Linked DNA regions of Homo sapiens: region 1 is linked to region 2. Evidence: fine-mapped expression QTL. Tissue or cell type: aorta. Region 2 holds a variant in brackets; the other region holds the start of a gene. All regions are shown on one strand. Distances are between the middles of the regions.

What was found. PIP is the estimated chance that this variant, and not a neighbour inherited with it, causes the effect.
Region 1: ADHFE1 starts here. The variant in region 2 is fine-mapped to the expression of ADHFE1 in aorta (GTEx, PIP above 0.99).

Annotation. Positions count from the first base shown.
Region 1 is chr8:66,428,540-66,436,539 of GRCh38, reverse strand. ADHFE1 (alcohol dehydrogenase iron containing 1) reads right to left here and starts at 4,036. Exons shown (of 14, transcript NM_144650.3): 1 at 3,965-4,036. The coding sequence starts at 4,023. RRS1 (regulator of ribosome synthesis 1) reads right to left here and starts at 7,526. Exons shown (of 1, transcript NM_015169.4): 1 at 5,807-7,526. The coding sequence starts at 7,408. The coding sequence ends at 6,311. It overlaps RRS1-DT (RRS1 divergent transcript), which reads left to right and starts at 7,563. Exons shown (of 3, transcript NR_040434.1): 1 at 7,563-7,598. It overlaps LOC102724687 (a long non-coding RNA gene), which reads left to right and starts at 4,174. Exons shown (of 5, transcript XR_929013.3): 1 at 4,174-4,256. RefSeq lists silencers at 3,783-4,202, 7,788-7,877 and enhancers at 5,959-6,008, 7,278-7,647.
Region 2 is chr8:66,349,780-66,366,711 of GRCh38, reverse strand. All of the region lies in intron 1 of LOC102724687 (a long non-coding RNA gene), which reads left to right. Among named protein-coding and RNA genes, the nearest start is that of RRS1-DT, 71 kb to the left of the region's middle. The variant A/C (reference allele first, on the strand shown) is at 4,440.

The sequences.
Region 1 (8,000 bases), 74 kb before region 2:
AGCCTTCCCCATCCCCATCTAATGGCAATTTCATCCTTCCAGTTGTTCGTGCCGGAGAATCTTGGGGTCACCCTTGGCCCCACACTCCCATCTCCCCCTTATTCACTCTGTTCCATACCCAGGTATGCTTCACCTCTGCATACCTTCCCTGAAGGCCACAGGGTTTGCTCTCTGCATCCACTGGTCTTTCCGCAACCATTACCTTCTCAGTGAGTAATCACTGAGTTGAGTAATCGCTCCTGAAGATAAGGTTCTAATCCTGGGAATCTGTGAATGTTACCCTACATAGTAAGAGGAACTTTGCAGATATGATTAAGAATCCTGGCTGGGCACAGTGGTTCACACCTGTAATCCCAGCACTTTGGGGAGGCTGAGGCTGGTGGATCACCTGAGGTCAGGAGTTCAAGACCAGCCTGGCTAACATGGCAAAACCCCATCTCTACTAAAAATACAAAAATTAGCCAGGTGTGGTGGTGTGTGCCTGTAATCCCAGCTACTCAGCAGGCTGAGGCAGAAGAATCGCTCGAACCCAGGAGGTGGAGGTTGCAGTGAGCCGAGATCACACCACTGTACTCCAGCCTGGGCGACAGAGCGAGACTCCATCTCAAAAAAAAAAAAAAAAAAAGAATCTTGCTAGGTGTTGTGGCGCATACCTATAATCCTAGCACTTTGGGAGGCCAAGATGGGAAGACTGCTTGGGGCCAGGAGTTCAAGAACAGCTGGGGCAACATAGTGAGACTCCATCTCTACAAAAAATAAAATCAGCTGCGCATGATGTTGTGCACTGTAGTCCCAGCTACTTGGGACGCTAAGGTGGGAGGATCTTTGAGGAGGCCAGAAATTCGAGATTGCAGTGAGCCGTGATCACATCACTGCACTCCAGCCTAAGTGACAGCAAGACTCTGTCTCAAAAAAAAAAAAAAAAAAAAAAAAAAAAATCTTGAAATGAGGAGATTATTCTGGATGATCTGTGTGGGCCCTAAATGCAATCACTCATAGCCTTATAAAAGGGAGGCAGAGGGAGATTTGACCCAAAAGACAGAAATGTGAGCACTGAAGCAAGATGAGTGCCAGCTGTGAAGATGGAGGAAGGGGCCACAAGCTAAGGAACCGAAGGTAGAGCTCTAGAAGCTGGAAAAAAGCAAGTAAGTGGATTCTGCAGCACCTCTGAGCCTTACTCAAGAGGGAGTGTGGCCCTGCTCACACCTTGGCTTCAGCCTAGTAAAACTCATTTCAGACTTTTGACCTCTGGAACTGTTAAGACAAATGTGTGTTAAGCCACCAGGTTCATGGTAGTTTGTTACAACAGCTGTAGGAAACTAACATAGTGAGGGCTGCTCTGAACACCTCAAAAATTGCATCCCTTCCTTCAACATCCCAGCCTCCTTTATGTTCTCTGTAATAACTTTCAACAGCTAATGTACTCTCAATTTTACTAACTAGTTTGTCATCTATCCCCTGTGCCCCATGCATGGTGTGGTTAGGTTGTTTTGTTCCCTGCTGTACCCCAGAGATAACACAGTCAAAGCAGGGCTGCATTGCACATCTTTTTTTTTTTTTTGAGACACAGTCTTGCTCTGTAGCCCAGGCTGGAGTGAAGTGGCCTGATCTCTGCTCACTGCAAACTATGCCTCCCAGATTCAAGTGATTCTCCTGCCTCAGCCTCCTGAGTAGCTGGGACTATGGGCACCCACCACCCTGTGCAGGGCTGCACATCTGGAGACGGAATGTGACTCTTGCCCTCCAGGGCCTTCCCACAACCTCTCTGGCCAGTGCACGCCTTGCCTCTGTCTCCTTCAGTGCTGATTCTTTCCCCTCCATTCAGTTGTCAGCGCAGTTGCTCTATGGAATGTGTTGGGCAGAAGCCCAGAGTGCATGCTCTGTCCAATAGAAATGGCCACACATCACCCCGTGCCCTAGCCCACTTTGCCCAGATGAAACATGTGCCCAATGATGCCATTTTCCAATTTTCCAAGATTTTCATTGGAAATCTCCCACTTTTAAAATGTTTACCCTATTAGAATAATAAGCATGTGCAGAAGAAAGCACCATCTTGCTACTCCTGCTGTGGCAGTGCTGCTCCCCAGGAATTCACCCTCAGCTGTTTCCTTCTAGGTTAGAGTTTTGTTAGGGCTTCAACTGTCCTCCATACGCATGGATGGATGTGTTCCCAACTCACTCTTGAGCCCCAGAACAATACATTCAATCACCTACTGGGGTCTCCATCTGAATGTACCAGAAGCATGCTCAACTCAAAATGCCCTAGACTGAAGTTGCCATTTTCCTCCTAACACTAACTCTCCTACAATCCCTGCCTTGGTAAATGAGCCCACTGTTTACTTGATGCCCAAGCCAGAAATCTCAACTCTTCACTATTCAGATACAAAATCCTGTGGATTCTAACCAACCTCTCAGCATTTCTATCTACCCAAGGAACTGCCTCTCCGTGCATGAAGCCATTATCTTCAGGCTGGAGCAGGACAATGACCTCTAGTCCTTCCTCTTCACTCCACATTTCCACCAGAATGTGCTAACACAGTTCTGATTATGCCATACTCCCTTTTCATGCAACCATTCCAAAAACATATTCTGTGTGTGACACTGATTCCATGGGATATAAATGGTGTTGTGTGACAAAGAGTTCTATGATGACACAGGTTTACAACCAAAAATTTGAACACAGCTTTAGTATTTTTTGTAGCTTCTTGGAGCCCTGCATGTCTAATGTATATTTTGATTCTCCAAGAGGGCAATACAGCAGTAAGGAGCTTCTCAAACTTATTTGGCCATGTAATTCTTTTGTCATGGGACATTTTAAGGTATCAGTGTTTAATGGTGACAAATATTATTCAATGGCTTTCCATTATCTACAGCACACAATTCAAATTCCTTACTACAGGCCTAAGAACAAGGACTGTGAAGCCAGAGTATCTGGGTTCAAATTATGACTGTGCCATTTGCTTAGCTGTGTGACACTGGACAAATTCTTCTCCATGCCTTTATTTCCGTATCTATGAGGATGACAATACCGTGTGTCATAGGGTCAGTGAAAGGATTAGAGTTACTATTATACTGATAGTCCATTCAAAGTGTGTAAGACACTGCCGGGCTCATCGTATTAGCTATATTCTTATTCATGGTCTTTTATCAGCCGTCTTCTCCATCTTTACCTCCTCTTATAAAGGTAGGTCTACTTGTCTTTTGTGTCCTGGGACTGCATCTCCATCGCTGGTGTTGCTCTTCTCTCTGCCTGACGTTCCTCGCCAGTCCCTCGCCTTTCCTCCTACTGATCTGCACCTGTGAGCTCAAACTTTTCCATGTTTCCCAGGCAGACTTGTGCACTTGCACAGTCAGCAAGTATTTATCAGGTGACCAGGATGTACCTCACATTTCTGCTGGGAGGCAGGCGTGTCATGACATTGAATACCCTGACTCCCTGTACATGCCAGGAAGTGTGACTCTGCGACTTCTCACATCCATCCTTCCCTTCTACACCCAGTCTGCTATAGCCGGTTTTAGCCTCGTCCCCTCATCCCATTCCCCACTAGACCTCAAACTGCTCCAGAGCCTTTCATCTTTGTATCCCCAGAACCTAGAATAGTTTTTGGCACATAATATATGCCCAATAAATATGTGTCAATTGCATACATGAATTTGTCTTGGCCACCGTGCCAAGCTCTCCACTGCCTGCTACGATGTGGGACCAGGTCCTCTCTGGGCCTCAGTTTCTTTAACGGTAGACAAGCAGAGTAAAGGCTGCCTCACTGCGCCCTGAGAGGCTGCATCGCGCACTCTGTGACCTCGCTGTTCCGCCTGGCGCGCGGTGGGAGCCCAGGGCGGTATCCAAATTCTCCGAATTCTTGAAAGTAAGCGGAGAAGACTGCGCAGGATCTGAGCGGGTCACACCCAGGGGGCTGCGTGGGCACCCTGCGGTCCCCTGCCCGCCCGCCGGCCCCGCACTCACGCTGCGCGTTGCAGTTGCCTCAGCAAGTACGCGACCCGGGCTCGGGCGGCAGCGGCCATGGCGCTTGGAGTCCTCTTCCCTCCTCGGGTCGCTACACCGCCCCCTCCGCCGGCCAATCACGGAGGCTGCCCGCCTCCCGCCCCTCGGCCGCGCCTGCCCACCCGCTTCGCGGGGTCACCTGTCTAAGCCTCAAGCCAGTCGGGCTCAGGGCCATTTTCCCACGGAGTAAGAACCAGAACGCCAGCTGCCCCAGCGGCGCTCGCACCATCCACCCTTGAAATTGCCGTAGAAGGTAACTGCTCCGTAGGCCTCGGGTTCTGCCTTAAATCTCCTTACTTATCAACTCTATTTTTCACATGTTGAGGACTTGGGGGAAGGAAGAGGAACAGGGATATTCTTTTTCCACTGTTAATCCTTTAAAATGTTACTTTCCCTTCTAAGAGTATTTTAAGTGATCAAGACCCTGCCTTTAAACTGTTTTAACAGTAAACAAGAACCTAGCAGAGCCCGAGGGTTTTTGTTAAATACTGTGTGAATGGCTTTGCTTTTGATGAAAGCAAAATCAATAGTTAAAACTCTTACATCAATAGTTAAAACTTGCCATGATTAGACTATGCTCCGGGAGGGCTTGGCTGTGCCATATCTGCCATGTCCCAGTGGAAAAGCTGATTAACGATAAAGCTCAACTTTATCAGAAAGTATCCAAAGACAGTAACAACTAAACATTTGCATTTTTAGTAATCTGTTATTATGAAATCTGAATCCTTTATGGGAGATATTAAGTTTTACAGAAATGAATTTACTGCGATCAAACTGGAAAAGATTGATGGACAGGAAGACCAAGGACAGCTATATAAACATTTCACCTCCTAATCAAACCAGCTCAGGCCAACTTGACAAATGAATCAAAAAATAATGTTCTATGAGAACACATGTACACAGGGAGGGGAACAACACACATTGGGGCCTGGGGGCAGGGGATAGAAGGGGGCAGAGGGACTTAATACTTAGGTGATGGGTTGATAGGTGCAGCAAGCCACCACAGCACACGTTTACCTATGTAACAAACATGCACATCCTGCACATCTACTCCGGAACTTAAAAAAAGATAATAATGTCCTAATTAAGGATCTTATGGGTCTGTTTCTTTCTTCCCCCAAACAAAACTATACCTGACGTCAAGCTTAAAAACAAACACACACACACAAACAACTGGGGATATAAACGTAGAGAAAGATTTAAGTGTTTTCTGGATTAATGAGGATTATTACCATTAGTCAATGAAGCCCAAATTGATCATTTACAGGAAATCCATGTGTTCAGTGTTGAAAGGCATAAAATCTTTTTAAAAAACAGACATCAGTTTTACTACTTTGAATATTATATTTGATACCAAAAGAAGTATAAGTTTAGAAGTGGTATCACTGAAACCATTATAATTGAACTGCTTTTTTTTTTTGAGATGGCCCCTTCCTCTGTTGCCCAGGCTGGAGTGGAGTGCAGTGGCGTGATCTGGGCTCACTGCAACCTCCGCCTCCCAGGTTCAAACGATACTCCTGCCTCAGCCTCCCAAGTAGCTGGGACTACAGGTACCAGCCACCGTGTCTGGCTAATTTTTTTATTTTTAGTAGAGATGGGGTTTCACTGTGTTGGCCAGGCTGGTCGCGAACTCCTGACCTCAGGTGATCCGCCCGCCCCGGCCTCCCAAAGTACTGGGACTCTACAGGAGTGAGCCACTGCGCACGGCCTGCTTTGTGTTTTTCAGAAAGTAAACAAAAATAATCTGTACCAGGTATCCAGGTAACCGGCTTCAAGTACAATTTCTACCCAGTAGTCAGAAAGTTAAAAGTCACACTAGATAAGACATCTTTATTACTTAATCTTTAAAACAGTCACTTGCCTATTCAATTCTGAAACTGTTTGTTTTCTTTCCCTCCCCCGCACTCCCGCTCTGATACACAAACTTGTTGTAAAAATAATGCAGAAACATATACGTCAATCTAAGTCTCTGAAATATGGCCAACTCTACCTCGCCGTATATCCAACATTAAAAAGAAAAAAAAAGGCTGTTTAAGAATAGAACTCATTCCCGGTTTCCACCAAATTATTTCCCTAATTCTTAAATCCTCAAATAAGTTCTTAATCTCCAAAGTCTCGGTTGTGGGAAAAACATTAATTTGTGCAGTCCAACACTTACATACTTTCTTGACGGAAGGGCAATCCTGTCCCTTTAAACTCAATGAAGGCAGCGGCCAGGTCCTTCTGAGTCCCCGTATAATTGCCTAGAACTTAACATTTAGTATTCATAGTCCTTGGTTTACAGACGGGTCCGACAGTTAGAAACTATTACTTCCTCCTCTTTCCTCCTGGGCGCTGTCCTCCTTTTCTCTTGCCACCCAAGCCAGGCGGCCCAGAATTCATCTTGCCTCCCAAGCCCCCTTTCCTCTTCCCTCCCTGGCTGGGCGGGCCCCCTTTCCTCTTGCCCCCAGGCCCCTGCCGGCCTCCCTTTCTCTTGCCCTTCTGGCTCATTTTCCTCCTCTTGGCGGCCTCCTCCTGGTCCTCCTCCCTCATCTGCTTATTGGTGGCCCTAGTCACATCCAGCTGAGGCTTCTTGCTGTTCATGACACGAAGCAGCTCCAACTGGTTCTTTTTCTCGGCTGCAAAGTCCCCGAAAAGGGGTTGAAACTTCCTTTTCTTGCCGGAGCCCCGGGGCACCTTCTCCTTGGGGAGGCGCTCCTGAAAGCGCCCCACAGAGGCGGTGGAGACCTTGGCCACTTGCATGGCGCGGCCCAGCTCCTCCTTACTCTGGTGTCCGGTAGGGTGCAAGCCGGCCGCGCTGGGCAGCTGCATCTTGTGCGCGCGGGCCAGGTTACGCAGCCGGTTCAGCTCGTTCTTGGCCACCCTTTCCTTCTTGGCCTGAATCCGCTTGGCGAACTGGTCCTCCAAGGGGTCGGCATTGCCGGGCACCTCAATCAGCCATTCTTTGGTGTCGTCCCGGGCGCGCTGGTAGCCCCAGCGCCGCCGCCACTGGCCACTCACCTCGTCCCACACCAGGTTGGTCTTCTTCTTGGGACGGATGCCCTTGAGGCGCGCGAACTGCTGCCAGCGTGTAAGTGGCCGCGGTCGGGGCAGAGGCTTCTCTCGCGGCAGGCGTGTGGTGGGCTCCGGCAGCCGCGCCACTATCGCCTCTTCCACGCGCTCCGTGGGCAGCTGCCACAGCTGGTTGATGAGCAGTTGCGTGTTGTCCCGCGCCAGGGCCTGTAGCTCGGCCTCCGGCGTGGGTCCGGCGCACCGCAGCCCGGTCGGGGGGTTCCGGTCCGACGCCAGCAGGTTGCCCAGGTCAAACTGCAGCTCCAGCTCCTTGTGCACCGTGATGCGTTGCAACTTCTCTGCCTCGTCCTGCTCTGCCTTTGCGAGCAGCTCCTCCACGCTCTGGCCCTCCATGGCTCCGGCTCGGCTCACTCGCTTTGGGGCTGCAGCTGAAGTTACTTTTCCTACAGTGGCGGCCCAAACTCCGGCAGCATAACCACGTGCAGATGCCGGGATGCCCAATCCGGAAAAGAAAGGTTCGCTTCCGGAGCGTCCGGAAGCGGCTCGCAATCCGGGCGACCAGAGGAAAGGCCGGCAGAGGGCGGTATGGAGAGATGATGGGATTAGAAGCGGGACCTTTAGGCTGGCGCCAGATAGAGGCGGAGCTGGCCCGAGCAGGCCGCACTGCTAGTTCCAGAGCAGGATTGGGACTACGATTCCCAGGATGCAGGGGGCGGGAGGCGGTCTAGAGGGCGGTCCAGGGACAGCTCGGGGGGCCGCCTAGGGGGTGGTCCAGGGGGCGGTCCGGGGACAGTCTCGCAGGCGGTCTAGAGAGGGCGGTCCCGGGGGGCGATCTAGGGGGCGGTCTTGGGGGGGGCAGTTCAGGGAGTGGTCTTAGGATGGTGGTCCGGGGACAGTCTTGGGGCTCAATCCGGAGGGGCGGGCCGGAGGGTTTGTCCAGGGGCGCGGTCCGGGACCGGGGCGGGTACAAATTCCTGGGACTGCC
Region 2 (16,932 bases):
GATTGTTTAGAGCCTTATGAGCCAAAGTGAAAAGTTTGGATTTATCCTAAATGCAACAAGAAGCCACTGGGGGAGATTTTTAATTGATTAATTTTTTTTTTTAGAGATGGGGTCTCATTTTATCGCCTAGGCTGGAGTGCAGTGGTGAGGTCATGGCTCACTGGAGCCTGAACTCCTGGGCTCAAGCGATCCTCCTGCCTCAGCCTCTTGATAGGGACTGCAGATGCATACCACCATACAAAGCTAATTTTTAAATATTTTGGGAGAGACAGGAGTCTCACTGTGTTGCCCAGGCTGGCCTCAAACTCCTGGGCTCAAGCTACCCTCTCACCTTGGCCTCCCAAAACACTGGGATTATAGGTGTGAACCACTGCACCTGGCCAACTGGAGAATTTTAAGCAGAGGAGTAACATGGTCTGATCCCCATTTTAACAGCATCACTTTTGCTCCTGCATGAAGAGTGAATTACAGAGAGTTAGAGTGGAAGCAGTTAGACAGGTAGGCAGTTCTCACAGGATTCTGGTGAAGGAATGATGGTGCCTTGAACTGAGATGGTAGTTATGGAGACAGAGATAGTACATGGACTTGGGAGAGAAGTAAACCTGTCAGGATTTGCTGTTGGAATGAATATGAAAGGTGAGGGGAAGAGAAGAATTGAGGATGATTCATTGTTTTGGTTTGAGCAACCAGGTGGAAAGGATTGACATTTAAAGATTTGGGGAAGACTGGGAGAAAAGAGGTTTGTGGGAAGGAAAAAAAAATCAAAATTCTGTTTCAAGCCTGTTAAGTTTGAGACGCTTATTACATATCTAAGTAATATATCAAAAGGCAATTGCATAAGTGTGCCTGCTCTTCAGGGCATTTTTAAAACTCAAGGTATAAATTTTGGAGTTTTCCCATATATATGATATAAGATGGTTGATTCTTGCTCTCTGTGGTACTTATATTCTATAAAGCTGCTGCAAACACTGAATTAGGAAATACTGAACTATTGCTCTTACAGGAAATACTGTTAGGTTCCTGTGAGCCACTGTTCACAATTTTCATTAAGCAATCTATAAAAAACCTTGTTTTATGTGTGTTTCTGTTTAAAGACATCTTTTGTAATGTATAGTGTTGACTCGTTAATATTGCCCTCATGGCAACAGTACTATGTCTCATGCATGAACAACGCTTCTTTGACACATGTATTTTCCCCGTAGGGTGCATCACAACCCCCTTGCACTTAGGAACACTACACAGCACTTCTGCAGTTTTCTTGGAGGCCATTTTAAATGGTTAAATCAATAAAAAAAGAAAAGCCTAACGGTTAAAAATTATGGCACTAAATAGAGCACTAAAAGGACACTTGTTTGTAGTATGACAGCTGAAACAAGAAGGCAGAGATTGCTTTGTTTGCCTCAACTGGGAACATATATGTTAGGGGACTCAAAGTTTTGCTGCTCTGCACATGTTCATGAATGACCATGAAAGTGCTTGGAATATTTATTTCGGAGTTACAAGTAATTTTAGTGAGTAGGCGAATTTGCAAATATGGAATCTGTGAATAGTGAGGATTGCTGAATACAGAGAGGAACAAAGGGCTTAGGCTTCCCTTTGTTGGATGTACACCAAACAAAACTGATACACCTGCTGACCCCCTCATCTTCCACTACCTGCAGTGTTTGCTCTTCTATAACATACTCTTCTAGATAAGCAGGACAGCTGTTAGTACATAAAACAATATCATTCAGTGTCTCAGTGAAATTCATTCCTTCAATGAATATTTACTGAGTACCTCTTCTATATCAGACGTGGGGTATATACATTTTAGACATAGTTCCTGCCCTCAAAGGGCACCCACTGTAGTGAGAGAAACAGACACATAACAAATGATGGGAGGAGTCCCAGTTAAAAATGGTGGAATTGAGTAATGTTTACTCCCCTTGTCTTCTTGAAGTAATCTATCATAAAGAATAGAAAATATTATGAAAATATCATCTATAATGAAACTAGGAAAGAATGCCAAACAGGTTATGAAGTATTTCTGTTAAACAGAGTGAAACCTCTAACCAACGGAGGAAAATTCTGGAAAGTGAATACATTGCTCTTTATGTTTCCTAACCTGGGGAAACTACGTGGAGAGAGGCAGGGGGAGCAGCAGTCAGCTTCACGGCTCTGGCCATAGTCCACCAAGTAGCCCAGTCACGGATCGTTGGGCGGATGAGCAGCTAGGCTTCATCAACCTTGCTCCAGAGCAGGGTGTCCGCACTGAAGGAACAAGCCTCAAACTTGAAAGGATCTCCTTCCCAGGATAACTGATTGGAAAGTGTTCAGACAAAATGTACGAAAATTAAATTCGCCAACTGCCCAAGATTACTCATTCTTATACTATTTTATTAAAGATCATTGCTGATGAGAATTATACTGATTCAATATTGAATAATAATCAGAAAGGATTCAGCATAAGATCTATTCACAGCCACCATAAAAGAGAAGAAAGTAATAAAACACAGAAAAGGTCAATACAGATTATACTTCAGCTAAATTATCCCAGTAAAGAGAAGATTTCAGGCAAACACCTTCTCCATGCTTTCAGAGAAATTAATGGGAAAATGGACTGTTAAAAAAAAAAAAAGGAGCTCAAGGAAGTGATAATTACTCAAACACATAACAAATGAACTGACAGAACTCTGCAAAGAATTTTTTTAAAGAATCCACTGCAAAAATTAAAATTACCTTGGAAGCAGCAAGAAATAGGATACTGATGGAAAAAAAAATTGTCAAGGATTTATGGAACAGTCCTAAGAAAATCTAACAAAACAAAATAAAACAAAAACCACCAAAGAAATGTCATTAATTAGACAGATGATGATAGCTATGGAAGACAGAAAAATGATTCAATAGAAGCATAGCATAATTTATTTCAGTAAATAAATAAAACAAGTAAAGAAAGAAAAATATTAAAATACACAGTAGAAGAAACATTTCCTGAAATTTAGAAAGCATCTGATCGACATAAAAAGGAATATGTAATGATTAAGACAGCATATCTTGATGAAGTTGTTAAATTTCAAGATCAAGAAAAGTCTCCAATAGCCAGTGAAACTAAGAAAGAACTACAATGGAGAAAATGTCAATCTGGCCTCAGATTTTTTCACAGCAACATTAAATGCGAGAAAAGAATGAAATTATTTTTATAAAGAATTCAAAGGTAAGAATTTTATACCTAGTCAAGTTATCCTCCCAAAATAAGTATAACAGAAAGACATTTCTAATATGTATAATCTCAGCATATTAATGAGCCCTGCTTGGAAAAATACATTTGATGATGAGATATAGACGATTAAATAATACATTGCACTTAAAAAATTAGGAATGGAAAAGCTGTCGTATGAACTGACTAGCGGTGAGCATTGAGTACATTTACATAATGTAATAAGGTTTTAAAGATAACCCTTTAAACGAGGGTAGCAATTGTAATTTGACTTCTTTCAAAAGAGAATTAAGTAGTGCCTATAATTATTTAAACAAGGAGTAGATGAGATCACCCAGTGAGTTAACATAGTATGAGGTTCCTAACACCGCTAATAGTGTTGGGTTTAAAAAAAAAATTAAAGGCTGGGTGTCATGGCTCACACCTGTAATCCCAGCACTTTGGGAGGCCGAGTCGGGCGGGTCACAGGGTCAAGAGATCGAGACCATCCTGGCCAACATGGTGAAACCCCGTCTTTACTGAAAATACAAAAATTAGCTGGGCGTGGTGGCACGCACCTGTAGTCCCAGCTACTCAGGAGGCTGAGGCTGGAGAATCACTTGAACTCTGGAGGTGGAGGTTGCAGTGAGCCAAGATTGCACCACTGTACTCCAGCCTGGCAACAGAGTGAGACTCCATCTCAAAAAAAAAAAAAAAAAAAAAAAATTAAAAAAGATAGTATGAAGGACTTCAATTAACTTATGATAACAGATTCACAAGAATTTTTAAACACATAGATTAAAAAAAAAAGGTCACATATTACATCTTGTGTCTTTAATTACCTAGCATAATTCTAGTTCTATTCTGAGCTTTATATACTAATTTTTGAAAATTTTGAAAAATATTTTGAAAGAAAATTTAACAAAAAGAAAGAGAAACAGAGGATAATGAAACTACCTGCTTGCCAAAAATTCCAGAAAGAATTATTTTGAACGTATCTTTATGAAGCCAACTCTTAGAAGTTCACACTGGAAGCATGTATGTTTTCATACAGCTACTTTTCTCAATCTTTCCCTCCCCTGATATAGTGACACAAGCCCCAGTCAAGTGTGTATCCAGAACAAAGACCAATGTGCCTATCCAGGGTTGTGTACAATTCATGACTAAGGGCTATAAATCTGTCCCTTTCTCCACTTCTCAAGAAAGGCTCTCACAATGAAGTGAGTGCATCAATTAGGGAGCTTTCAGCTGCAAGCCACACTCA[A/C]AATCAGTCAAATAATAAGGGGCTTGATTATGTCACAAAGTGAAATCAGGATTTAGAGTGATTCAGAGTTGGTTAATTTAGCAAATCCACAGCATCAAGACCGGGTTGTTTGCATCCTTCAACTCTGCCATCTTCAGCAGTGTGTTTGCTTTTATTTTCAGATTTGTTCCCTCATGGCCTCAAGGTGGCTGCCGCAGTGCTAGACTAAATCCTCACTTACAAAGCCTCAAGCTTAGAAGACAGAACATCCCTTCCTTGTGACTCTTTTTGAAAGTGAAGAAGAATCTGTTAGAACCTCCTGAAAAGACTTACTCTCATGTCTCATTAGTCTGAATTCTGTCACAGGACAAGTCCTAAACCAAACATTGCAAAGGAAATGGCAGAGGGGATTAGCTCTTCTGAAGCTAAAGATCTGTTTGCAGTCAGAAAACAGGTAGGCAACGGACACTATTTGTTGGAGCGACAGTGATATTATAGAAGTAACTTTCAATTGTTGTACCATTTATATAAAATAAATAAATGAAAAAGTGTTCTTGGTACCACAATAGTTACTATAGGCAAAATCCGTTGATGAATACTACTCTTAGTAGGTGAGACTTTAAGGAGAAGCAGGGTATTTGCATAGCTGGAAAGGAATTTCCCAAATACATTTATTAATTACTATTAATGGTGGGTTTTGACATACACTCCCAAATTCTTCTACCAGGAGGTGAAGTTTAATTTCTGTCTCCTTTATTATGAGTTTGACTTAGAAACTTGCTTCTAAGGACTAGAGTATGGAAAGGAAAAAATACCTTTACAGCACAGAAACCGGCAGATACTACCTTAACTGAACGATCAATGTTAACATCACCCGTAATAAGTTGTATTGACATGATGTATCCCTTATATGATGTGATGAGAAGGGCACCTCACCTCTGTGGTATATGGTATTATTCCTCCAAATCTATAAGCTCAGTCTAATAATGAGAAAGCACCAGACAAATCCAAATGGAGCCAATATCATGAAAAGCAAATGAGGAAAGGCTGGCAAATTGTCAGAGTTGAGTTTATAAGGAGACAGGATGACTTAATGCAACATGGTATCCTGAATCGAATCCTGGAACAGGAAAAGGACATCAGTGGAAAAACCAGTAAAATCTGAATAATTCTATAGTTTATAGTATTGTTAATGTTAATTTATCAGTTTTATAAATGCACCATGGTTATGTAGCATGTTAGCATTAGGGGAAATGGGATGAAGGGTACATAGGAACTGTCTGTGTTATCTTTGCAACTCTTCCATTAATCTAAAAATTGTCAAGATTCAAAGTTTTAAAACAATTCAGTTATTAGGGCAAAAAGGTTTCTTTATCATTAGGTCTAATTACTTTCAACATATCTCTCAATAGATCATGACACTGCAATGTCTCATGGTGTTCCCTTTGGTTGAGAATGGCTGCTACTTTGTTCATTTATTACGTATTAACAGACATCTCTATGTGCCAGGCATGATGCTACCAATGATGAACTGAGAAGATACTGCCCTGGCCCTTCTGCAACTCACATTCAATTGACCTAAACTGGGAAGTAAAGTTTTTTCCTATCCAATACAATAGTGATTTGCAGAGAATCCCCAACTTTGAGGGTTTTGAAATGAGTTACAGATATTTGGTTTTTAAAATTTGACACAAATTGTATTGAATATGGAAAATTGATGCTACTCATTTTTGAATACCAGCAAGTGAAATTAGTCCTTACAGTTTTTTTTTTTTTTTTTTTTTTACAAAAGGAGATATGAGTTAAGGGTTTTACTTATGCTGGAACATAATGTTTTACTCCTTTTGTCCAAGAGTAAGCATGGGCCATTTCAGCTAAAGTAAGGAATTTGTTCAGTTACTATCAGGTTCAGGAAAACAACAAACAAACAAACAAACAAACAAATAGAATGTATTAGATTTACCAATGACTGAAGACAGGATTGGGAGACTTTGATGACAAACCTTGTACTGTTTGACTTAGCACATTGGCAAATCTGATTGTAATATATGTCAGATGAGTTCTAAAAAGGTGAATACAGAATTTAATAAAGAGGGAATAGAAAAAGACAAGTTATTAGAATGTAAAATAGAAACAACACTTAGGCTTAGAGACCCAGGAATTCACAGCTTTTTAATAGTGCTTTGTCTCATGCTTGCTGAATCTTTCCTGTAATTACCTGAATGAAAAATGGTCTTAAAATAAATGAACAGAACATTGTACCTTTCCCAAGACAATGCTGCAGCTATGTCAGGATACCTGTAGGAGGTTGTAATAAGGCTGCTGGGTGAATTTTAAGTCAAAATTTATTTAAAACAATCATGTTAATTATTCATAAACAACAACCAGACTAACATAAAGTTATTTTCAGGTTTATTTTTGATTATTTAGAAATGATTATTATATTCATTTTGGTTATTTAACCATCATATACATACACAAAAAAGAAAATAAAATCACTAAAGACCAGTTTGTTTCAAAAAATCAATTTTGGTCAAGATTCATCCTATAGGATTCAGAAAATATTTTCTGCAGCTAAATAAAATGGAAAAGCTTCATTTCAGTCAAGCTCAATGAACATTGTTTTCATCAGTGAGATGTGTGATTTTTGTACCTACTTTGATTCTCTTGATCACTGCGTTTTTTTTCCCCACAGTGAACTTTTACAGCTTTTACTCGACAATATCTCTTCCTCCTCTTAATGATATCACCCCAATATTTTTTATTGAGGTGATTTTACAAGCAGTGATATGTACAGATCTTAAGTGCACAATTAAATGAGTTTAGACAAATGCATATGCTCATATAATACCATCTCAATTAAGATACAGACCACTGGGCTGGGCACAGTGGCTCATGCCTGTAATCCCAGCACATTGGGGAGGCCAAGGTGGGAGGATCGCTTGAGCTCAGGAGTTTGAGACCAGCCTGGGTAACACGGAGAAACCATGTCTCCAAAAAAGAAAAGAAAAGAAAGAAAAATGATACAGAACATTTCCATCGCTCCAGAAAGTTCCTTCATGCACCAGGCAGTCAACTCTTAACCCCCATACACAAAAATATTGTAATTCCATCACCATAGATTAATTGCCTGTCTTTGAACTTCACATACATGGAATTGTTCAGTATGTATTTCAGTGTGTCTGGCTTCTTTTGCTCAACATATTTTTGAGATTCACTCTGTTGCTGTGTGCATCAATAGTTTATTCCTTTTCACTGCTGAGTAACGTTCTATTATGTGACTAAACTACAACTTGCTTATGAACTCTTCTGTTGATGGGCATAACATTGCAATAAATATTCTTGTAGTAGTTTTTTGGTGGACATATGTTTTAATTGTCTTGGGTAAAACCTAAGAATGAAATTGCTGAGTCATAGGGTAGGTGTATATTTAACTGTATAAGAAACTGACAGTTTAGCAAAATGCATCATTTTACAATTCTACTAGCAATATATGATACTTCAATTGTTCTGTGTCTGTCAGCATTTGCTGTTGTCATTTAATTTTAGCCATCCTAGTGCATGAAATGGTAACTCATTGTGGTTTCAATTTATATTGTTATAATGATTAAAGAGATTGAGAACATTTCCATGTCTTATTGGCCATTTGTATATATAGCTCCATGAAGTGTCAATTCAAATCTTTTGCTGTTATGTAGTTTTTGGTTGTTTTGTTATTAACTCATGAGTTCTTTAGATATTCTGGACATTAGTCCTTTGTTGGATATATGTGTTATAGATGTTTCCTTTTTTTTTCTTTTTTTTTGAGACAGTCTCACCGAGGCTGGAGTGCAGTGGCAGGATCTTGGCTCACTGCAACCTCCGCCTTCTGGGTTCAAGCAATTCTCCTGCCTCAGCCTCCCAAGTAGCTGGGATTACAGGTGCCCACCACCAAGCCCAGCTAATTTTTGTATTTTTAGTAGAGATGCGGTTTCACCATGTTGGCCAGGCTGGTCTTGAACTCCTGACCTCAGGTGATCCATCCGCCTTGGCCTCCCAAAGTGCTGGGATTACAGATGTCAGCCACTGCACCCGGCCACATTTTCATTTTTTATATCTTTTAATGAGCAGAATTTCTAAATTTTATGAAACACAACTTTTCTTTTTCTTTCTTTCTTTTTTTTTTTTTTTGAGACAGAGTCTTGCTCTGTTGCTCAGGCTGGAGTGCAATGGCGCAATCTCAGCTCACTGCAACCTTCACCTCCCGGATTCAAGCAATTCTCCTGCCTCAGCCTCTTGAGTAGCTGGGATTACAGGTGGGTGCTACCACGCCTGGCTAATTTTTGTATTTTTAGTAGAGATGGGGTTTCACCATGTTAGGCAGGCTGGTCTCAAACTCCTGACTTCAGGTGATCCGCCTGCCTGGGCCTCCCAAAGTACTGGGATTAGAGGTGTGAGCCACTGAGACTGGCCTGAAGCACAATTTTTCAATATTTTCTTTAACAGTTAGTGATTTCTGTGTCCTAAAAATCTATGCCTTGACAACAACAAATGCTGACAAGGATTTTTAGGGCAGTGAAACTACTTTGTATGACACTATAATGGTGAATACATGTCATTATACATTCGTGAAAATGCATAGAATGTACAACACCAAGAGTGAACCCTAATGTAAAACCCTAATGGATTTGGGGTGATAAGGTTAATGTATGTTCATTGATAATAACAAATATACCACTCTAGTGTGGGATATTGATGGGGGAGAGGTTGTGCATGTGCCAGGATAGGTAGTGTATGGGAAATCTCTGTACTTCCTACTCAATTTTGCTGTGAACCTAAAACTCTAAAAAATAAAGTCTATGCAAAAAAATCTATTATTTCCCCTAATAACCTGCAATGCTATCTCTGTAGCTTATTATTTTTTAGCGGAGAGGAAATATATACATGTTGTATACATGTATAAATACATATACATGTATGTATTTATTTAGCTAATTGTGGTAAAATACATTGAACACAAGATTTCCTATTTTAACCATTTTTAAGTATATACTTGAGTAGTGTTAAGTATATTCACATTGTTTTGCAGCCAATCTATAGAACTTTTTCATCTTGCAAAAGGGAAAGTCTTTACTCTTTACACAATACCTCTTCATTCCACACTGCCTCCAGCCCCTGGCAACCACCATTCTACTTCCTGTCTCAACAAAGTTAACTTGTCTTGATACCTTATATAAGTGGAATCGTACAATGTTTGTCTTTTTGTGACTAGCTTATTTCACTGAACAGAATGTCCTCAAAGTTTATCCATGTTGTAGCATGTGTCCGAATTTCCTTCCTTTCTGAGGCCAAATAATATTCCATTGTATAATAAATACCACATTTTGTTTATCCATTCAACCATTGATGGATACTTGAGTTACTTCTACCTCTTGGTTAATGTAAACAATGCTGCTATGAACATGGGTGGACAAATATATTTTCAAGACTCTGAGTTTAAGTTTTTTGAATACATACTCTCAAATGCTTTAAAAGTTGATTTAGTTGATCATATGCCTTTTTCCTCCCTAATCTGTAATGTGATGAATAATTACACAGATAGATTCCTTTGCATCCCTGCATAGGGGAGGAAAAATGTCTTTTTCTTTATTCATCCTAGGTTTATGGCAGAGGTCCCTATAACAAAAGACAGATTAATACATGAAAAGCTTACAAATTTATTTAGTGTAAGTTTTATGTGACACGGGAAACTTCAAAAGGAAATGAGGATGCAGAAACAGGTGAACCGATGCATTTTAATGCTAGATTTGATGAGAGTGGAGAGTCATGGAGAAATAGGATAGAGCTAAAAGAGTATGATCTAATTTAATGGTAATAAACTGGGGGAAACTTAGTAAGGCCTGTTCAGATTCTTCTCTGTGACTCTGTGTCTTCAGAGATAGGATGTTCCTTTCCTCCAGGAACAGAAAAGACACCTCTCACATGAGGGTCTTATGACCTGCTTCAGGAAAGAAGGTCAGGGGAAGGTCAGAGAGAACTTACTGCATATGCTATCTTTCTTTCTTTCTTTCTTTCTTTTTTTTTTGAGATGGAGTCTCGCTCTGTCGCCCAGGCTGGAGTGCAGTGGCGTGATCTCGGCTCACTGCAAGCTCCGCCTCCTGGGTTCACGCCATTCTCCTGCCTCAGCCTCCCGAGTAGCTGGGACTACAGGCGTCTGCCACCACGCCCAGCTATTTTTTTGTATTTTTAGTGGAGACGGGGGTTTCACCGTGTTAGCCAGGATGGTCTCCATCTCCTGACCTCATGATCCGCCTGTCTCGGCCTCCCAAAGTGCTGGGATTACAGGCTTGAGCCACCGTGCCGGGCCCTGCATATGCTTTCTCTCAAACTTTTTCAGCTGAAATATTCAGTATGCCAAGCTGTCGTATTTTCAGGTAGCATATCATGAAGTCCATCAACTAAGATATGATTTACTTGATTATTATGCATTTAAAAAATACACTGTCGAGTTCAGTTAGCTAATATTTAGGATATTTGCAACTATGTTTATAAATGAAACTGGCCTATAATTTCTCTTTTTTCCATTTTTCTTATCTAGTTTTGAGTAAAAGATTACACTAGCACTATAAAATGAGCTGGGCATCTTTTACTCATTTTCTATTTTCTGTACCAACTTGTAGAAGATAGGTTTTTTGTTTGTCTGTTTTTTGTTTTTTTTGAGTCAGAGTCTCACTCCATTGCCCAGGCTGGAGTGCAATGGCACGATCTTGGCTCACTGCTACTTTGGCCTCCTGCATTCAAGCGATTCTCCTGCCTCAGCCTCCCAAGTAGCTGGGATTACAGGTGCTCACCATCACACCTGGCTAATTTTTTGTATTTTTTAGTAGAGACGGGGTTTCATCATGTTGGCCAGGCTGATCTCGAACTCCTGACCTCAAGTAATCTGCCCACCTTGGCCTCCCAAAGTCCTGGGATTACAGGCGTGAGCCACTGTGTCCAGCCTACAAGACAGTTTTTATAAGACAGTTTGTTGGAACTTAGCTGTAAAGCTATCTGGGACTGGGATTTTTTCGGATTCAATTTCTTTTATACTTATTCATATATTCAAGTTCATTATTTCTTCCTGTACCAAGTTTGGCCATTTACATTTTTCTAGGTATTTTTCCATTTTATCTAGATTTTCAACTTTGTCAATGTACAGCTGCTTAAGTAATCCTCTGTTGGGTCTAGATATTTTCTTTCTTTATGCATTTTGTTTATTTTCATTTTCTCTTGATTAGTATTGCCAAGACCCTATTTTATTAATCTTACAAAAATTAACTTTTTATTTGTCTTCTATTTTTAGTTTTTAAAAATCTTTTATCTTTATTATTTGCTTCTTTCTTGTCACTTTGGGTTTGCTCTGTAACTCGCAACTTTTTGAGTTAAATCCTTAACTCACCTATTTTAGATATTTGTTACCCGGTAAATATATTTAAAGCTATAACTTTTCCCTAAGTACAGCTTTAGCTGCATACCTCAAAATTTTGTCTTGTAGTATCGTTATCATTCAGTTCTAAATATTTATTTCTGCTTTAACCAAAGACTTATTTGGTAATACATTACTTTTTAATCATGTGAGTTTTTTTGAAAAAGTTATTCTTCTGTTACGATTTAACAGTTTATTGGATTATGGTCAGAGAGCCAAGTCTGTAAGGTATTAATTATTTGAAATGTATTGTTATTTTAATAGCCTGGCACATGTTCAATTTTTGTTAATATTCTAAGTATGCAAGAAAAGAATAGTCACTCTTTTGTAAATCTAAGTTTCCTTTTTTTTTTTCCTTCAGAGTTGATTTTGTGGTAGGGAGCCAGTAGCTCATGCAAATTCAACATTTTGAAACAGGATACTTTCATTTTTAAACATTTAAATTACTGTTCATCTAGTAAAATGAGACTTTGGACCATTACACAAAGATGCACTTAGTGAAGTCAACATATAGATTTAGACATCTCTCTATTGTCATAGAAATAGTATATTTTGTTTTCTCAATTTTCCTAAGGGGATTGGTCTTTAGAAAACTTAAAACTAAAATTCCCGAGACAACTCAGACATAAGTACAATATTTAGTTTATTGGGCCCATTTTTGGGGGAAGGGCTTTACCTTCTCTCCATCTCGCCATTCTGCCTCTCAACTTTCCTCACCAGCCACACACAGCAGAAACTGGGTGATATCCAGATGGCTTCTTTTATTTTAACCTGAAGCACTTGTGCAAGTAATGAAAAATGGTAAGCAATTACTTTTCATGGGGGGAGGTTCTGTTAACTGAAAGACCATTGGTTCAGCAGAACCTGAGATGAATTGGGGTATGCGAACTTGATGGTAGAAACTGGAGTGCAGTGAAATTGTTTTCATAATTGTGGAGGAAGATGCCAGAATCAGAGAGAAATGCCCCAGGGGTAGTTAGCTGGAAGAGGGACTTGGGGGAAACTGAAATATCAAATAGATAATTTTAAAAAGTTTCTATTTTTAAAATTAATATTATTTTAAATTGACAAATCATAATTGTGTACATTTATGGGGGTACAATGTGATGTTTCGATATATGTAAACAATATGAAATGATTAAATCAAGCTAATTAACATATCTATCTCATCACTTATTTTTTGTTGTGGGACATTTGACATTTACTCTCTTAGTTATTTTGAAACATATTAATGCCTATAGTTATCTGCTGTGCAATATATCTCAAAACTTATTCCTCCTGTCTATTTGAAACTTCATATCTTCTGCCCAACAACTCCCGATTCCATCCCTCCACTCCCCTCAGCCCCAAGCCTCTGGTAATCACCATTCTACTCTCTACTTCTATGAGTTCCACTTTTTTAGATTAATAGATAAGTGAGATCACGTATCTGGCTAGTTTCACTTAGTATAATGCTTTACAGGTCCATCCATGTTGTTGCAAATGACAGAATTTTCTTTCTAGTTTTTTTTTAAGGCTGACTAGTATTCCATTTTGTATATATACCACATTTTCTTTATCCCCAAGTTGAGTAATTCTAAGTTGAATCCTGTAGGGTGTATAATGTAACCTTGTTTCTCAGTTTCCTCTATGAAATCTTAAGTAAACTACATCAAAGAGGAAGCAAGAGTCAGAGGGGACAAATGACATCTATTACCCCATGGATACATTTTACAATCATTAAGTCTCTGCACATCTTGTATGTGTTCTCTTGGCAAGAGTCCCTTGGAGTTTTAGATCCTTGTCTTTTTAAAGTTCAAGGCAATCTACTGCTTGAGGCTGTCCCAATCCCTCTATTCCCTCCCCATCCATACCAGTTCTCCTAAGGAGTCAGTATTAAAAGCAAAAGAATAAAGTTATCAGAAAGGATTTCACTAGTTGGGGGAAACTAATGATATAAATTCAATTTGTCTTTTGGGAAAATTACTGTATCATCTCAAATGATATGAAGGTCAGTTTGTAAGTCAAAGCCACATTCACTGCCCATCATCACCCTCTCCCCTCCTCGATGCTTCCCTATTTGATCAGATTCCAGCAGAGGCACTGAGGCAGGACACCATTCATACAGCCTTAGCTCCTGCTGCACACTCCAAGTTGATTGACTGCATCAGAAAAGCCGTGGTTCCCTGTGACCTAAAAGAGGCATTTTGAGTCCCTGAGCTCTTGCATCAAATAACTATCAGCAAAGGATACCAGGAAGGCAACACAGTTCATTGGTTCATTAACTCACGTTCCCCAGGGCTTTGAGGCAGATGGGGAAAGCTGGACCAAAGGCTGAGACTCTAGGAAGTCTTCTCTGTCAGTCATAAGCTGGAGCGGCAATGACAATGGGGAACAAGACCACTCAGTGGCACCTGGGCTGAGCTGCTGTCCTTAACAAAGAGAGGTTTGGAGGCTCCCCCACCATGCAGGAAGAAGGCAGAGCCCAACAGCTACATCCCTACCTTTCTGTCCTTAAAATTTGGTTCAGCATTTCTTTGTGATACACACATCACTTCTCCTACCAGCTGCGAGGGCAGGAGGAAAAGCAATTAAAGGCATTATTTATCACCAAGTTCCTACTGGGAAGGGTCAAACTGCAGCAGGATTTGAAAAGCAACAACAATTCTATCACCAAGGGAGTTATAAAAGTAGATAGCTCAACATCTTAGAGCTATATTTGGGCTTTTTCTTTCTTAGCCCTAAATATCTTTACTGAAAGTGAACATCCCAGAGGTGATTAAAAACTGGCCTTCCTGTCAGCTTTGGAATTGTTCGAGTTCTAACAATATTTGAGTTTGGCAAGCTTTGAGTCTGCTTTGGGAAGTTGCAGCAAAAATGAATTGGAAAATATATCTTTGCCTTTATAGAAGAGAAGAGAAGGGGCTCATTGTGTTTTATTATAACATCTATATTAGAATTCCCTCTTCACTGAAATCCATGGAAAATCAGAAAAACTTTTTGCATAATTGATTATGTGTGGCATTAAAATACCTATTGAACTTATGTTCATTTAATAGGATTGCTTTAATTCAAAAATTATGAAGTGGGCTGTGTTTCTTCTGGTGACTAAAACTCTTCATCCTGTTACCGGAAAGGGGTCCCGATCCAGACCCCAAGAGAGGGTTCTTGGATCTCGTGCAAGAAAGAATTCAGGGCGAGTCCTCAGTGCGAAGTAAAAGCAAGTTTATTAAGAAAGTAAAGTGGTGAAAGGACAGGTGCTCTATAGACAGAGTAGGACGTTCCTGAAAGTACGAGGAGGAACGCATCCACCCTAGGTACAATGCTTGTATATATGGGGGGAGGTGTTCTGCTACAAAGGTTTGTGATAAAGGATTAATTTTCTTCATTACTATATTTTGCAAGAATTGATAATATTATCTTTAAAGCAAAATTAGGAATGCCTTTGTTCTCCAGATATTGGGATATCTGGACGCTCCCAAATCTGAGTTTGTTATAGTAAACATTATTAATTTGTTCCCTTAACCATAAACATCTAGGGGCTAGGAATGCGTAATTTTCTGGGAATGCAGCCCAGCAAGTCCCAGCCTCATTTTCCTAGCCCTCACTCAAAATGGAGTCGCTCTGGTTCGAATGACTCTGACAATCCCAAACCTGCCCTCATGCAAGGGCTGAATGATTACGGCCCCTGAGTGGTCTCACTCTGTTTGTGCTGCACTTCTCTTTACGTATTTTTTTTTTTTTAAAGCAAAACAGCAAAAGGTTTATTAAGCGGGGTAACACCCTCGGAGAGGGGAGAGTGAGCTGACCGGTGAGTGGTGTCAGCCTCTTTATGGTTCTTGTATACTAATTCACTAGCATAATCAGTCAAGAAATATTTGCTGAGCATCTATTATGGGTCAGGGATATAGTAGAGAATAAAGCAGACATGTTGTTTGCCCCTGTGAATTTACAAGCTAGCAGGGAAGACAAATACTGAATAATTAGAGTAAAATAAATGTTACAAAAAGAGTGCATTGTTCTATCAGAATATGTAACTAGTTCTCCCATGAAGACTCCTATACTGTATTCCTTTCTTAGATCACTAGCTTCCTTTTATTACCACTACCAGATGATCATGATGATGATCATAATAGTAACCACTGACATTTGTTGAGGGCTTTTGATGTGCTAGACACTGTTATAAGTAACTTTAGAAAACTTGTTTGTAAGTGGTAGAGTCAGGATTTGAAGCTAAGATATTCAGAGCCCATGCTTAAACACTGTGCTGTAACACCTGCTATATTTTGTTTATATTAGTATGTGGTACATTTAGTGGGTTCTCAGAAAACATTTGTTAAATGGATAAATGAGTGGTTGAATGAATACAATGGTGCAATGAGGCGACAGTTACATCATTTGAATTGCTATGGTATTGGTGGCTGACCATTATTTAAGATTCTATTTTTCCCTAATTACGCTTGCATTCCTCCAGAAATCTTGAATTCAAAGTGCATCATCTGGTAGATGCTTTAATGCTCTTGGCTTTTTAAATTTCTATTTGTTATCTGCTGTAGTGAACTGTTGGTATCCTACTGACCTGAGCCAGGGATCCAAATACATAGTGTTTGGCACTTTCCCCCATCCCTGTATCCATGGCAAATATCACAAATTAGTTATGTCACTCCTTCCCAAGTCCTGATAGGAGTCTCAAAATCCTCCTCCCCTTCGAGTCATGACTACTGATACCATGTCAGCCTCCAAGAGGAAACCTATTCATACACCTGGCCCTAACTTCCATGCAAAGTTGCTGTACAATGATAATCTTGCCTTGCCTACCATCATTGTATTGCTCCCCTCTAGATGAAAGTTCAAGGGCTCTTTAGCTGGTGGTCAACAGTTAGATTTGGGTGATCCAATCATAGTCACTAAGTGGGGAGTGACCACTGCTACCTTGTCCACAAGTGAGAGTAAACTTGGCTACCGTGCGGAAACTCAGATGGACAGGTAGCGTTTTGGATTTATTAAAGATTGAAGTATATTAACTTGGTTGAGTATTGAAAGATAGGATTTGGAAATTGAGAAAAGGATGGAGGGTATCCAGTGTAA